Regions from separate parts of the Homo sapiens genome. Here region 2 is linked to region 1. A link means that fine-mapping ties the variant in region 1 to the expression of a gene that starts in the linked region. Tissue or cell type: whole blood. Region 1 holds a variant in brackets; the other region holds the start of a gene. All regions are shown on one strand. Distances are from middle to middle.

The links. PIP is the estimated chance that this variant, and not a neighbour inherited with it, causes the effect.
Region 2: RUBCN starts here. The variant in region 1 is fine-mapped to the expression of RUBCN in whole blood (TOPMed, PIP above 0.99).

What each region holds. Positions count from the first base shown.
Region 1 is chr3:197,692,122-197,700,225 of GRCh38, reverse strand. It overlaps RUBCN (rubicon autophagy regulator), which reads left to right. Exons shown (of 20, transcript NM_014687.4): 8 at 3,177-3,272; 9 at 4,245-4,360; 10 at 5,641-5,851; 11 at 6,410-6,511. Among named protein-coding and RNA genes, the nearest start is that of MIR922, 22 kb to the right of the region's middle. The variant C/G (reference allele first, on the strand shown) is at 3,209.
Region 2 is chr3:197,733,546-197,741,649 of GRCh38, reverse strand. It overlaps RUBCN (rubicon autophagy regulator), which reads left to right and starts at 4,746. Exons shown (of 20, transcript NM_014687.4): 1 at 4,746-4,995. The coding sequence starts at 4,931. RefSeq lists silencers at 1,991-2,123, 4,483-5,032 and enhancers at 4,621-5,468, 6,399-6,448.

The DNA.
Region 1 (8,104 bases):
ATACCAATGTGAGAGAGGCAGAGAGATACTGGGGTTTCTAATTAAAACGAAGGCTATAGTGAGTGCAGGGTGATGCGATCCAGCAACTGAGTCGGTGGGGCTGACGGCCGCATCACTGATTCAGGGTGAGAGGCCGTCAGATAAGGAGGCCCTGGCAGCTGGGACCTCCCTCACCAAACACCAGCTGATAGCAGGGGCAGCCTACTCGTGGGGAAGGTGGGGCTCCTTGCTTTTGCCATCTCCCTGCCATCATCCTTCCCGGCTTGTGGTATCCGGCAGGCTTTGGTTGGGTTTTGTTTGTAGTAGGATCTCCATAAGAGGAAGTATAGCATGGAGCTTTGTGCTCAAAGCCATTCTGGGTCAGGAAAGCCCCAGAAATAAAATATAAAAATAAAATGTGAAAAATTCAAGGACCTAAAAAAAAGAGGGGGCGGTTTCTTTAGCAACTGGAGATAGCGTTGCTTTCTCTTTGTAATTTCTGGAAAGGTGAGAGCTAAGGCCCTCATCTGAAACCTTCAGAATTACAAACTTTTGTCTTTGTTTTCCCTCAAGAATGTGATTTAACTTGTTGGAAATCTTGAGGAGAAGAATCTCCAAATCAAAGCCTGTCTTCCCATGAGCTTTCTTAGATGTGAAGATGACTGGGCTGGACCCTCACTTCACATCTCCTGCTGCAGGCCTGATGTCTGCCATACTCCAAGCCACTGGCCTTTGAGCATGTAAAACTTTCCCGCCCCATTCTTGAATCCATATGGATTCCAGTGGAATCCTGCCTTGGAAAAAGGGAGCCCGCGAAAATGTGTGCGGAAGGATCTGAGGAAATATGGGTCACGCACAGCTTCTTGGACAAGCCATCCGTCCTTCACAACTGGGGTTTCCTCTTGGGAGTTCCATCCCCACTTCTGCTGGGTAAAATTTAGGACACTTTTTTTCTCTCTCTGTATTCTCATTGCTCTATCTGGACTCTCCTCTGCACCTGTCTGTCTACCGGCAGGAGGCCCCAGGAATATCACCATTATAGTTGAAGATCCCATTGCAGGTTTGGGAATCGGTCCTCCACCTCCTCTTTGTTCTGTTTTGTGACCACCTTTCTTAGTTCAGAACCTCCTTCAGTCTGGTGTCAAATCAAGTCTGGCTAGCCTGGTCTTGTTGTGATGCTTGGAACTGTCTATAAAATGATACCAGTATTTCATATGATGTGTTTTCTATACACAATTCCAAATGCCTCGTTCAGTCTCTCAACAGCTTCTGGGAGGCAGAGTCAAGACTTATCAATTCAGTTTTGCCCAAAGGTGAAACTGAGGCCTGCTATTTGTCTGAGGCATCATGATGAATCAGTAGCAGACTTTTTTTTCTTTTTTTAAATTTTTTTTACTTTTTTTTTTTTTTTTTTTTTGTAGAGACAGGGTTTCACCGCATTGCCCAGGTTGGTCTTGAACTCCTGGCTTCAAGTGATCCTCCTGTCTTGGCCTCCCGAGTGCTGGGATTACAGGCGTGATCCACCACACCTGGCCCAGAATTTTTCTTATAACTGAATACTTCCTATGGATTACTTTATTTTCCTTGAATTAACACCAGAATGTATTTTATCCCCTTTCTGTGGTCTTAGATATACTTGCATGTTTGGTTTTTTTGTTTTTTGTTTTTTTGTTTTTTTTCCCTCTCCTGCAGTTCCGTTTCCTTTTTCTTTCACCTGTTTTCATTTCCCTATAAATCCCTGCACCCCATTCCAGCTATTGCATAGGATTCTTCTAGTTATTTCAGTCTGTTTCCTTGGTGTTCATGGTGGTGTTCAAACTGAGATTTGTGTTCCATCCTGGGTACCATAATTCATGGACATGAACACTGGAATGTGTCTGCAAGGCAGAGTATTGAGAGAGGGCTGAAAGCCGTGGCCTCCTGGAAGTGGGTGAGGCCATTGGGTATGTTAGCTTGGAAAACAGATGGTTAAAGAGGAATAAAGTCTGTAGGACCATCATTTAGAATAGCGTTCTTCTTAAGGAGATAAGAAATTGGAAGAAGGCAGATAACGAGTGTAAGGGAATTCTAAGAATTAGTTAAATGGTGGCATTAGGAGGTAGTGAACTCAGTAAGTAAAGGCTGAATGGCCACATGTTGTAAAGAGGTTAAGGTCGTGTTGGAGTTTGTGTTGTGTGCTGTTTGGGAATCTTGAAGGTCCCTTCCAAGTCATATCATGGTTTTTTACCAAGGCATCGTGGCGACTACTAGTTTGTCCTCAGTTCAGTAGGAAGGAACAGAGCCCACAGCCAGGGCTACCAGAAGTCTTTGAGGCCCAAGAAGAACACAAAATTGTCTCTTGCACAGAGTAGCATTTTTTGTGAGAGGAGCAAGTTGGTAACATCTGTCAGGGAAATGGGTTAGATGCAGCTCAGTCATTCACTCTCCCACAGCATCCTGCTCATTTTCAAGCACCCACCTGCTTTTCCACCTGTTCTTCCTTCTGTGGTCCTGGAAATGTTGTGTTTCCTTGTGAAGAATATCAGTTTCTCATTCCTGCAAACCCTGCCTGCTACTGTTCTCCCTCCCAGCTCTCGCTCTTCCTGTCCCAGGCATTGTCTGTCTCGCCAGCCTTCCCTCCCTCCCTTCTTCAGTAAGGCCGGGCCGAGCCCCGTAACGGAGCCCTTTGCTTACAGGGCCCTCTCCCTGGGCTTCTCCAGCACTGCCTTGATGCTTCTTTTTAGGATGCTGCTGAATTTTATTTCCTTAGTGAATGTAAATCTTCTGATGTTACTTTAAAACCTAATGTCAAGATGTCAGAAAAGTTTCAATGCACTTGTCTTTGTTTTACCATCTAAAGACTTTTCTAAATTGGTTTGTCAAGAGGATAGGAATCAGCTGATATTCCTGTAATGTTTGGTTAAAAGATGTAAGGAAAGAGAAGCAAATTCCATGAATCCATTTTGATTTGATTCTTTCCTTTATGTTGCCCCATTCTGGATCACGTTTCTTCTTTTCCACTTAGAATGTACTGACCTGCCATCTCCTTCCCTCCCTGTGTTTCTGTACCCTTGGGCTGTTCCGTTGGTGTGCCGCCTCTCTCCTGCTTGGGAGGGCTTTGGGAAGGGGTGCAGTTAAGTGTTGAAACTCCAGAGTTGGGAATGTACCTGTTGCTCATTTCGTATGTGTTTTTACTCGCTGGTGGTCATCGTCATTAGAATCCTGCAATGATAAGGCGAAGTTGAGAGGC[C/G]CTTTGCCCTACTCTGGTCAAAGCAGTGAAGTCAGCACACCCAGCTCTCTGTACATGGAATATGGTGAGTACTAGGAAGGCCAGGGCTAAAATTGTATATTTTCTCTGCTCACCCCTTGTGCCTGCTAAGTTCTGAGTTTTGGGGTTCATCTCAGCTCTCTGGAGGGTACACACTGTTACAGTCTCAGTCACTCTTTTGTCATTTTTAACCCCCGTGCTAGAAATCACACTGCTCTGCCATTTCTCTTGCTTCTCTCTGACTTGGGGGTCCCACCCTCTCTTACGTGCTGGGTGTTCGCACCGGGTACGTCGGCTGGTCCAGATGGGATGGCTCTCTGAGTGGATGAGATGGACCTTGAAAAGAGGCCTTGGAGTATCTGGGCTTAGTAACCAGCAGACAGACTCTATGTGGAAATCATGCAGAGGAGGAAGCCATTTGTGTCCTTTTCTGCCTCCCAGCCCAAAGTTCTACATTTTTATTTTGTTTTTTCTTTACTGTATGGTACGAGGGAGAGCATGTTCTCTTTAATTTTAGATGGCAGAAGGATTCTCTCTGTTTATTCTACCGTTTTCCAACCAAGAGGCTTAGTGCTCTGGGATTCTAAGAGTCCAAGAAATTCTTTTTTGTTTTGTTTTTTTTTTTTTGAGACAGAGTTTTGCTCTTGTTGCCCAGGCTGGAGTGCAGTGGTGCGATCTTGGCTCACTGCAACCTCCGCCTCCCAGGTTCAGATGATTCTCCTGCCTCAGCCTCCTGAGTAGCTGGGATTACAGGCATGTGCCACCATGCCCAGCTAATTTTTGTATTTTTAGTAGAGATGGGGTTTCACCATGTTGGCCAGGCTGGTCTCAAACTCCTGACCTTGTGATCCGCCTGCCTTGCCCTCCCAAAGTGCAAGAAATTCTTTTAGAAGGTGGACATCTTCTTCCAACCTCTAATTCCCAGTTACCTGGGAAGACTTGGGAGCATCTTTAATGACAAAAGCTTAAGACTTCCTGAAGAAGCCTGGCTGTTTCATCCACATTCCATTTCCCACAGAAGGTGGTCGGTACCTGTGCTCAGGGGAAGGCATGTTCCGAAGACCATCAGAAGGACAGTCCCTCATCAGCTACCTCTCTGAGCAAGACTTCGGCAGCTGTGCCGACCTGGAAAAGGTGGGAAATCGAGGGCCTCATGAAGAGCTCATGAGTTGGGAGATTGGGTCTGAAGGTCTGTGGTGCCATTTGTTCTGATGAGGTTTTGGGTATAGATTACAGTAAAGATAAGTTCACGGTAAAGGGAAGCTCAGCAAGTTCTGTTTCTGAGGAACTCTGCAGGGAGCATGTGCCCCTCACTGAGTCCAAATTATTAGCGATTTTATCTTAGAAGCCAACCTGGGCAGAGAAGCATCAAGTTTGTGTGTGTGTTTTTGTTTTTTTGAGACAAGAGTCTTGCTCTGTCACCTAAGCTGGAGTGCAGTGTCACGGTCATGGCTCACTACAGCCTCAAATTCCTGGGCTCGAGCAATCCTCCCGCCTCAGCCTCCCGAGTAGCTGGGACTACAAACATGCACCACCACACCTGGCTATTTTTTTTATTTTTTTGTAGAGATGGGGGAGGTCTCCCTGTGTTGCCCAAGCTGGTCTTGAACTCCTGGGCTTGGCCTCCCTAAGTGCTGGGATTAACAGGTGTGAGCCCATGTGTCTGGGGTCTTGAACTCCTTGGCTTGGCCTCCCAGAGTGCTGGGATTCACAGGTGTGAGCCACTGCGTCTGGGGTCTTGAACTCCTGGGCTTGGCCTCCCAGAGTGCTGGGATTCACAGGTGTGAGCCGCTGCGTCTGGGGTCTTGAACTCCTGGGCTTGGCCTCCCAGAGTGCTGGGATTCACAGGTGTGAGCCGCTGCGTCTGGGGTCTTGAACTCCTGGGCTTGGCCTCCCAGAGTGCTGGGATTCACAGGTGTGAGCCGCTGCGTCTGGCAGCATTGTTTTTGCTGCATGATTGCGGTTCCCTTGACTCTGGCACCTTAGGTAAATACTGTTTCCAGAATCAAATTCTATCTTTTGTTCTAAGGCTCAGATAAGCAATAAATGACATCTGTGTAGCATTTTATAGACTACAAAGCACTTTTATCTTGAGACATAGCATTTATCTTAATATTTTGTGTACAGGTGTATGATTTTGGGAAAGAACCTGATTGAAATCCTGGGCCTCTTCTCTATCATATTTTTATGTAGAAATGAGACAGGAAGGGACAGGCTTGGCAAAGTAAGAGAGTGAAGAAAACCTAGAATAGGTTTTCCAGCCATCAGCTTTCCTCGTAGTAGAAATGTCCATTTCTCCAGGGTGTTTTTGGCAGGAACAGTTCCTATCTTGGAAACTCCCTTTTCCACATTATAATGAGTATGTCATTCAATACTTCTAACCCTTTGCCTGTTTGGTGCTCTCCTTCCGCCAGGAGAATGCCCACTTCAGCATCTCAGAGTCCTTAATTGCTGCCATCGAGCTAATGAAGTGCAACATGATGAGCCAGTGCCTAGAGGAGGAGGAAGTGGAAGAGGAAGACAGTGATAGAGAGATCCAGGAGCTGAAGCAGAAGATCCGCCTTCGGCGCCAGCAAATCCGCACCAAGAACCTGCTCCCCATGTACCAGGAGGCTGAGCACGGAAGTCAGTGGAGCCTGTGGATGCTTCTGTTCCCACATTTTCCCAACTTCAGCATAAGGCCTGGTGCCCAAACCAGTGGTTCCTCTGCTGTCAGATGTTTCTATGTAGTCCTACTTTTTTTCTATCATGCTAGGAATACTCATCCTAGAGTCGCTCCGTTTCCTGCATCAGAAATACCTGCCTTCCAGGCCAGGCAGAGTGGCTCACGCCTGGAATCCCAGCACTTTGGGAGGCCGAGGCGGGTGGATCACTTGAGGCCAGGAGTTTGAGACCTGCCTGGCCAACATGGTGAAACCCCAGCTCTAAATATATATATGTATATATATAAATAAAGGAATAGCTCCCTTCCCAAATAGCTTCCTGATATGAGGAGACCTAAGAACACTGCTCCCAGATTTGCTTCCCAGATAGTAGTACCTTCTATTTACTTGAAACTTTCTAAAGGGAAAGTTTCCATTTCTCTCTGTTGAGGTCATATCAGATCCCTTATATTGTGACACTGGAAGGACAAGAAGACCTCTTTCTGCCCTGTTTATTCCTTTTTGTTTTTAAACATAACAGGCTTTCGGGTCACCTCCAGCAGCTCCCAGTTCAGCTCACGTGATTCGGCACAGCTCTCTGACTCTGGCTCTGCTGATGAGGTTGATGAATTTGAAATCCAAGGTAAGAAGTGACACTTTGTTACAAGGGAACTTTTATTCTGTTTCTTTCCATTTAGAATGATAAGCTGCGAAGTGTTTCCTAAGTAGAAGATCTTCATTATGGATTGTTGTTAGCTATTGTAAGGGACAGCCTTCTGCTAAAAACAAAACCCCTTCACAGTTTCAGTAGGGAAGAACACTGGAAGCAGGTGTTCCAGGTGGATGGAGTGGCTGCTCGTTGATGTCACCCTGACGCGTCCTCCTCAGTGGTGTCTTTCTCCTGGGTTCCCACTCTGACTCCTCCTTTCAGCTTGTAGGGCTGGTCCATACCACTTGAAATTAGAATCCTATTCTCTTGGGTTCCATAACACAACTGAAATTGTTTCAGAGTGTTCAAAAGAGAAAAGGACAAAAAGAATCATTGGGGGCAGGGGGACAAAAGAGGAAAAACATCAGGTTTACAAAGTAGAGCTTGAATTTCTGCCCTTGCGGTCGGTGCTCACTGCTCAGCACAGTCACAGACTCTGTTTTTATTGGTGGTGGTGGTGGTGGTAGGAGTATCAGCATAGAGGAACAGTGGGGTTCCAGTCTGGGAAGGCAGTTATGTTAAATCAGGTTAATGTCCCACTCCTGCAAATCATAGATCTCTTCAAGTTCCCATCAGCAAAACAAACACACAAACAAAAAAACAGTTCAGGGACAAACGCTCTTCCTTCATGGGTGAAACTAAGAGTAGTTTCCTTACTGAAGTGAATGGTATCTATAATTCTCTGTTACAACATTGTGTATGTAGACAGAGGTGAACTGTATCTATAATTCTCCATTATAACATAATGTGATGACAGATAGGTCTTGTGTTGCAAGAGGCTTTGATTTCCTGTTTACACAATCTAGAGAGCCCATTCGCCTGCACAGGCCTCCAGATGGAGGAACCACATGTTTCTTCCCATTCAGAAACTCCGTTTTTTCACACATTTTCGAGGTATTCAGGAAGTCTTCCTTCTATGTTCTCCTTAATGTCTCTGATTTCTATGTATGACAACAATAGGTAGTCATTTAAAACTCCTTTTGTTTGTTTGGTTGTTTGTATGTGATTTTCCAACTCCTCTCCAATTCTCTACCATCAGCTGGGTGACTTACAATTTAGCTCTGACACTAACTACCTGGAGTTAGCACGGATCCTGCAGCTACAGTCCTGTGAAATTAATTCCGCTTCAGATGCCAGACACAGGTCACCAAGCTACCTGCCCTTCTGCTTGTAGGCTGACTACAAATTCAGAGATTCCCACGACCCCCTTCCCCAAGGCAGGATAATTTGCTTGAATGATGCCCAGAACTTGGGAAAGCTTATGCTTATAGTCTGTTGTAAAGGATCCAAATGAGCAGCCACATGAAGAAGTACACAGGGACTAAGGAAGAGATCACGAGCACAGGAACTCGTCCTGCCCCCGTGGTGTCTGGGGCACCACCCTCCCAGGTGCATTGATGTGTTCGCCAACCAGGAAGCCTGGACATCATTGTTCAAGTTTTTATTGAAGTTTCATTATATAGGCACCATCGATTAAGTCATCGGCCACTGGTGACTGGGCTGAGTCTTCGATCCCTCTCCCCTCCC
Region 2 (8,104 bases), 41 kb before region 1:
CATGTTAGCCAGGCTGTTCTTGAACTCCTGACCTCAAGTGATCCTCCCACCTCGGCCTCCCAAGGTGCTGGGATTACAGGCATGAGCCACTGTGCCCAGCCAGTTCCTATATAATTGAATAAATGAACCACTACTAAGTGCTTAGAGGGGATGGAAATGTTGCTATAAAGACAGAATAAAAGCTAAGTAATTAAAACTTGGCAAAATTCTTCAAAAGCTTTTAAAATCATCTCATCAGATGAACTACTATAAGCTTTATATATGCCTAACAGAAAAAGAATTTTGGTAAATCAGTAAATTTGGTAAAGTCAGTGAATTGGTCATTTGGCAAAATTGGCTTAAAAGACTTTTAGAAATGCTACCTATGGGGAAAACATAAATTAATTTTAAACTGTCTTTAAAGTTAATCATTACAAGATTAAAAATTTCCATGTGAAACACTAAAATTTTTGTTATATTTAGCAGGATACAGTCATAAGAAAACAAAACCATACTAAGATCATTGACTATTTTTTTAGGTCCCCATGAAAGCAGAACCTTGACTATTTTTTAAACTTGCAAATGTAGAGAAAAGTTGCAAAAATAGTGCAATGAATACCCATATATCCTCTACTTCGCCAATTAATGTTTTGCCACATTTGCTTTCTCTCTGTATAGAGGTATTAGTTGTTGTTAGACAATTTGAGAGAAAGTTGCAGGAATTATGACTCTTTAGAATCTATTTCTAAGGGCTGTGTGCAGTGGCTCACACGTGTAATCCCAGCACTTTGGGAGGCTGAGGTGGGCAGGTCACTTGAGGTCAGAAGTTCGAGACCAGCCTGGCCAACATGATGAAACCCCGTCTCTACTAAAAATATAAAAACTAACTGGGCGTGGTGTTGGGCACCTGTAATCCCAGCTACTCGGGAGGCTGAGGCAGGAGAATTGCTTGAACCCAGGAGGCACAGGTTGCAGTGAGCTGAGATTGTGCCACTGCACTCCAGCCTGGGCAACACAGCAAGACTCTGTCTCAAAAAAAAAAGAAAGAGAATATATTTCTAGGGATATTCCTTAACATAACCATGCTAAAATTACCAAGTTTAGAAAATTTAACATTGATGCTGTACTATTATCCAATTATGGTTCATGTTCAAATTTTGCCAATTATACTACAAAATTTCTTTTTCTTTTTCTTTTTTTTTAAGATGGAGTCTTGCCTTGTTGCCCAGGATGGAGTGCAATGGCATGACCTCAGCTCACTGCAACCTCCGCCTCCCAGGTTAAAGAGATTCTCCTGGCTCAGCCTCCCGAGTAGCTGGGATTACAGGCGTCTGCCACCATTCCCAGCTAATTTTTTGTATTTTGTATTTTCAGTGGATCCATGATCCAGCCTGAGTGACAGAGCGAGACTCCATCTCAAAAGAAAAAAAAACAAAAGAAGGGGTTCAGGATTATGAGGGAAAGTAGAGGGATGGGATAGGTAACGCATGGCTAGTGCAGATTATTGTCATGTTTATTAATGGCTTTAAAGAAAATCCAGTACATGTAACTTGAACTTGGACATATGAGAAAAAGCCTGTTTTCCAGCCTTTTTGCTACAATTTTAGTTTTTGGATTTCTTTTTTTTCTCCCCAAGACAGTCTCACTCTGTCACCCAGGGTGGAGTGCAGTGGTACAATCTCAGCTCACTGCAACCTCTACCTCACGGGTTCAAACGATTCTCATGCCTCAGCCACCCAAGTAGCTGGGATTACAGGCGTGTGCCACTACACCCGACTATTTTTTCTTTGTATTTTTAGTAGAGACAGAGTTTCACTATGTTGGCCAGGCTGGTTTCGAACTCCTGGTGTCAAGTGACCCGCCTGCCTGGGCCTCCCAGTGTTGAGATTACAGGCGTGAGCCACCGCTTCTGGCCCCTAGGATTTCCTGATAAAGCTGATTGCCTTTTTTTTTGAAACGGAGTCTCCCTCTGTCGCCCAGGTCTAGCTCTGTCTTCCAGGCTGGAGTGCAGTGGCGTGATCTCTGCTCACTGCAAGCTCCGCCTCCCGGGTTCATCACGCCATTCTCCTGCCTCAGCCTCCGGAGTAGCTGGGACTACAGGCGCCCGCCACCACGCCCGGCTAATTTTTTGTTGTATTTTTAGTAGAGACGGGGTTTCACCGTGTCAGCCAGGATAGTCTCCATCTCCTGACCTCGTGATCTGCCCGCCTTGACCTCCCAAAGTGCTGGGATTACAGGCATGAGCCACCACGCCCGGCCTTTTTTTTTTTTTCTTTTTTCAGACGAAGTCTTGCTCTTATCGCCCAGGCTGGAGTGCAGTAGCACGATCTCGGCTCACTGCAAGCCCTGCCTCCTGGGTTCAAGCCATTCTCCTGCCTCAGCCTCCTGAGTAGCTGGGATTACAGGCGTCTGCCACCATGCCCGGCTAATTTTTTTGTATTTTTTAGTACGCCTGTAATCCCAGCACTTTGGGAGGCCGAAGCCGGCGGATCACCTGAGGTCGGGAGTTCAAGACCGGCCTGACCAACATGGAGAAACCTTGTCCCTACTAAAAAATACAAAATTAGCCGGGCGTGGTGGCGGATGCCTGTAATCCCAGCTGCTCAGGAGGCTGAGGCAGGAGAATCGCTTGAACCCGATCGCGCCATTGCACTCCAGTCTAGCCAACAAGAGTGAAACTCTGTCTCAAAAATAAATAAATAAATAATATAGTGTTAATTTGGGATTATACTGTATGCCAAAAAATAAAGTTCATACATTTATAGAACTAGAAGTAAGGCCAGGTATGGTGCCTCATGCCTGTAATCCCAATACTTTTTGGGTGACTGAGGCAGGAGGACTGCTTGAGCCCAGGAATTTGAGACCAGCTTAGGCAGCACAGTGAGACCCTGTCTCTACCAAAAATTAAAAAAAAAAAAACAAATTAGCTGGGCATAGTGGCACTGCCTGTGGTCCCAGCTACTTGGGAAGCTGAGGTGAGAGGATCCGCTTGAGGAGGTTGAGGCTGCAGTGAACTGTGGCAGCGCTACTGCACCCCAGCCTGGGTGACAGAGCAAGACTGCGTCTCCAAAAGAGAAGAAAGTCACAGAAGGAAGAGAAATCCCAATGAGTAATATTGCCCCTTTCTTAAAGAAGTATAATCGTTTAGTAGGAAAATGAGAAAGTTTGAAAGAGAGTATTTTTTTAACCTAAATGAAATCATAAATGGCTTCAAGAGGCTCTTTCATTTCATTTTTAATTGCCAAAACACTTTTGTCAAGTTTGAAAATACCTAAAAGCCATATATTATTTTAATATAGAGTCATTAGTTTTTCACGGAGTTATTCTTGATCGCTCTTTCTCCCTCACTTGCCACAGTCAGTCCTTTATAGAGTAGTGCTGATTCTGTTGCCTTCACATTGCTGTAATCTGAGCCTCCTTGTTCTCTTCAACCGCTGCTGTAGTTTAAGCCTGGGTTTGCAAACTAGCAACTCAAGGGCCACCTTCAGCCTACAGACAAGCTGTGTTTGGCCTGTGCAAAGTTGAAAGTTTAAAAAATTTGTTGCCAACGTTTAAAAATTTGGAAGTAGTGCTTAAAAATGCAGATCCTAGCTTCTTTTAAAAAATCAAAATATCATAGCTAGGTGTGGTGGCTCGCACCTGTAGTCCCAGCTATTCAGGAGGCTGAGGAAGGAGGACTGCTTGAGCCCAGGAGTTCCAGGCTGCAGGGAGCTATGATTGCGCCACTGCACCCCAGCCTGGGCGACAGAGAGAGACCCCGTCTTTGAAAAAGAAAAAAGAGAAACCAGAGTATCTGGCAACCCTAGGCCCACGTTTCTTTCAACTGGTTCGCTTCACTTCTTAGCATTACTTGGTTATCCCCCATAAGGATGACCAGTCTCCTATCTAGCCTTCCACCGTTACCTCAATATAGTATTATATCTGCCCCATCTCCTGTCCACATTGTCAAAAGTGGCTTTCTCATCAGATTCGATCAAATCACTTCTTGATTTGCATATGCTTGATTTGCTGATTGTTTTCAGGATAAAATCCAAACTCCTTAAAATGGCATTTCATGATCTGGTTTCCCCACACCAGAATGCCCACACCATGCTGCTGCTCACTCCTTCCCAGCTCTGGCTACCCAGCACCTGCAGTTCCCAAGCCAGCACTTCCTTCCTTGTATCTGCCGTGTTGCTCTCTCCACCTTCTCTTCTTTCTCCTGGCTAACCCGTACTCAGCCTTGAAAACTCTGCGTTGACATCCATCTTCCGAGAGCCCCCAGAAGCCTTTCTCTCCTGCTCTTTTATGATCCCAAAGCAACCTGTGCTCTTGTTTGTGAGCGCTTCATTTAAATGCTCGAGGTCTCCAAACACCACCAGCGGACATTAAGCCAGGGCGGGCTGAGTGGGGTTAATCGTACCGGGATTAGATTAGCGTTATTGCCTAGTCTACATCTCGGACTGAGTTCGGTCCCCAGCGTGTAATGTCACGGGGGTGAATAAGGATACGCCCCGGCACGGATTCCTGAGACCAAGGTCCCCCGCCGCTTGCAAGCCGGCCCAGCCAACCACCGGGTGCGTAGTAATCCACGAGCGCGGCCTGGGATTGGAGGGCGCGGCCTGCGGGAGCGGCCTGGGATTGGAGGGCGCGGCTTGCGGGAGCGGCCTGCCGTTGGAGGGGCGCGGTCTGCGAGCGCGGCCTGGGATTGGAGGACGCGTCCTGCGGGAGCGGCCTAGCCTCGGAGTGCTCGCCGGGGGCTGTAGTCCCCGGAGCCGGAAGTGGGGGTGGCCGGGATAGAAGCCGCAGCCCAGGCGGCGGTCCCTCCCGCTGTCGCCGCCCGGGTGTAGCGCATCACCCGGAGCCCACCGGCCGCAGGTGCCTCCTCCGGCCCCAGGGGGCCCCGGGAGCCCTGAAGGGCGAAGCGGCAGGGACGCCTCTCTTGGGCGAAGAGGCGGCCTCACCGCCCCGGATGCGGCCGGAGGGCGCGGGAATGGAGCTCGGAGGCGGCGAGGAGCGCCTGCCTGAGGAGAGCAGGTGGGCTGGGAGCCGCCGCGGAGTCGGGGCAGCGACAGGCGCCGGAGCCCCGGGAGGCTTGGGAGGGCGCGGGGTCACGGAGAGAAGGGCCGGGCGCGACGAGTCTTGAGGACGACGGCTGCGGAGGACTTGTTTGGGAAGCATTTCGCAGAGGAAGGACGGGCGGGGCGGGGATGGGACGAAGGAACCGGCTTAGGGTGAGGAGGGTGGGTGGGATTTGCGGAGGGCAAGGGCAGCAGAGGAGGGTGAAGCTCAGATCCAAGACTGCTGGAGAGGAGGTGGCAGCTGAGAGACTGGGCGAAGAGGCCAGAGGGGTGCAGTGAGGTTTTACAGGCCAGAGTCTATAGACAGGGGCAGGGCACCACCCGGACTGAAACTTGCCGTGACAGCAAGTGGGGCCAACGCGAAGAGGATGTGAGAATTCCTGGGAGCAGAGGTGAAGCGTTATGAGTGGCCTCGGAAGAAGCTTAGGCAGAGATGAGCATGGGGATGAAGGCGAGGAGAGCCTGGGGAGAAAGTGAGCGAGTGTCATGGCAGTGCGGTGGGGCGGGGACTGCTAATGAGACCAGAAACTCTGCACTTTGTCATTGCCGAATCCCTGTCAGAGAGTGGCAGGACCTCTGTGCCATTTCCTTTTCGTCTTCAAACCTGTCCCTTTTTCCTCACAATGCAAACTAAGCAAGTTCACATTTATTTATATGGAACCATGTCAGAAAGCTCATATCTTCTAGAAATTGGGGGATTTAAAATATAAAAACTACTTTGGACCGGGTGCGGTGCCTCACACCTGTAATTCCAGCACCTTGGGGGAGGCTGAGGCGGGTCGCTTGAGTCCAGGAGTTTGAGACCAGCCTGGGTAACCTAGGGAGATCCCCGTCTCTACAAAAATACAAAAATTAGCTCGGCGTGGTGGTGCTCACCTGTGGTGCCAGCTACTCGGGAGGCTGAGGCGAGAGGATCACTTGAGTCCAATAAGTCGAGGCTGCATTGAGCCGAGATCGCACCACTACACTCCAGCCTGGGTGACAGAGGAAGACCCTGTCTTCAAAAAACAAAAAGCCAAAGAAACCCCGAACTACTTTGACTAAATGATGAATCGGAGTCTGTAGAGATGCCTTCCATATTTAGGGTTTGCTTCATTAATAACTCTGGTCTTAATCTTTTTTAAAGAGGCTGGAATGCTGACAGGCGAGAGCAGGAATGTGGCTTAAGGGAGTCATACTTGACATTTATTATTTTATTTTTATTTTATTTTTTGAGACACAGCCTCACCCTGTCCCCCAGGCTGAGCGCAGTGCCGTGAACACGGCTCACTGCAGCCTCCAACTCTTGGGCTCAAGCGATTATACTAGCTCAGCTTCCCAAGTAGCTGGGGATATAGGTGCCAGCTACCACATCTGGCTACTTTAAAAAACTTTTTTGTAGAGACAGGGTCTCACCATATTGCCCAGGCTGGTCTCTAACTCCTGGGCTCAAGCAATTCTCCCCCGCCACGTCGGCCTCCCAAAGTGCTGGAATTAACAGGTGTGAGCCACCAGGCCTGACCTCACTTGACATTTAGAAACAGTTTCAGATATAATGATGGTCTCAGGAGCAGCTGGGATCCAAAAACTAGAAGCAGAATATTTACCTCTGAGAAAATATCAACAAGGGAAGATTTATGAGATGTTCCTGGGTGAAGACTTGCTATTTTTAAGGGTGACTCTACTTTTATGTGCAAAGTGGCCTGTTGAACAAAACCTGGACTGACAGGACTTTGGGGCTCCTGCCTGAGATCTGAGAATGATTTGTGCTAAGTGAAACTGAACATCTTACTTCCCTTTTCCATGTTTCAGTTTCTGCTTTGCCTATTTGACTATTTATTCTTCCTGCAGATGTCTGTGACGTGCTTCGTGTGAAAGGTCCCATGTAAATTCTAAACACGTTTTAGGATTGTTTTGATTTCCCTCTACCACTTCATGTGAGGGAGGCTGGGTTAGTTATTTTTTTAATGTATGTAACAAATGCTATTTACCACATGCCAGGAATTGTTTTAAGGTATTAAGATATGAATACTGCGTTAACTTCTTTAATCCCTATAACTATTGTATGTGGTCGGTACTACTGTTATTGCTGTGTCACAGATGAGAAAGCTGAGAAATGGACAGGGTAAGTAACTTGCCAAGGTTGTACAGCGAATCCCTGGCAGAACTGGATTCAAACCCAGGCAGTTCGGCACCAGAGTCTGCGCTTTTTTTTTTTTTTCTTTTTTTAGACAGGGTCTCACTATGTTGCCTAGGCTGGTCTCAAACTCCTGGGCTCAAGATATTCTCCAGCCTCGGCCTCTCAAAAGTGCTGAGGTTACAGGCATGAGCGACCATGCCGGCCCAAGAGACTGCACTTTTTTTTTTTTTTTTTTGAGATAGAGTCTTGCTCTGTCGCCAAGGCTGGAGTGCAGTGGCACCGTCTTGCTTCACTACAACCTCTGCCTCCCAGGTTCAAACAATTCTCCTGCCTCAGCCTCCCAAGTAGCTGGGATTACAGGTGCCCGCCACCACGCCCAGCTAATTTTTTGTATTTTTAGTAGAGACGGGGTTTCGCCATGTTGGCCAGGCTGGTCTCAAACTCCTGACCTCAGAGGATCTACCAGCCTCCGCCTCCCAAAGTGCTGGGATTACAAGCGTGAACCACCGTGCCCGGCCCGAGTCTGTACTTTTAATACTCACCCTATGCTGCCTCTCACTATGCTAATAGTAACAACGGAAGTATAAGATAGTGAATAAATTTCACAGCATTCTGTGCCTGTCATTCAGGCCAGTAGGATAGCTCCTTTGCAGAATCTTTTCCCGTCTTTTATTCTTTTTATGATTGCCTCTTAACCAAAAAACTTTAATCAAAACTTAATTTTAGTAGTGGGGTTATCCTCACAAAGTCACTCCCGTCATTGTTATAGGCATACTGTGTTGGCGGCTGATTAATTCAGAATGCGTTGTTTAATGAGGCTTCATGGTACTGATGGCCTCCTTAGCTCCAGATACACAACTGGTAAATACACATTCCTTGTGCCTATTAATTGAGGCTTTGTGACTGGGTTACTGCAAACATAACCTTTCTATGGCCAATGAAATAC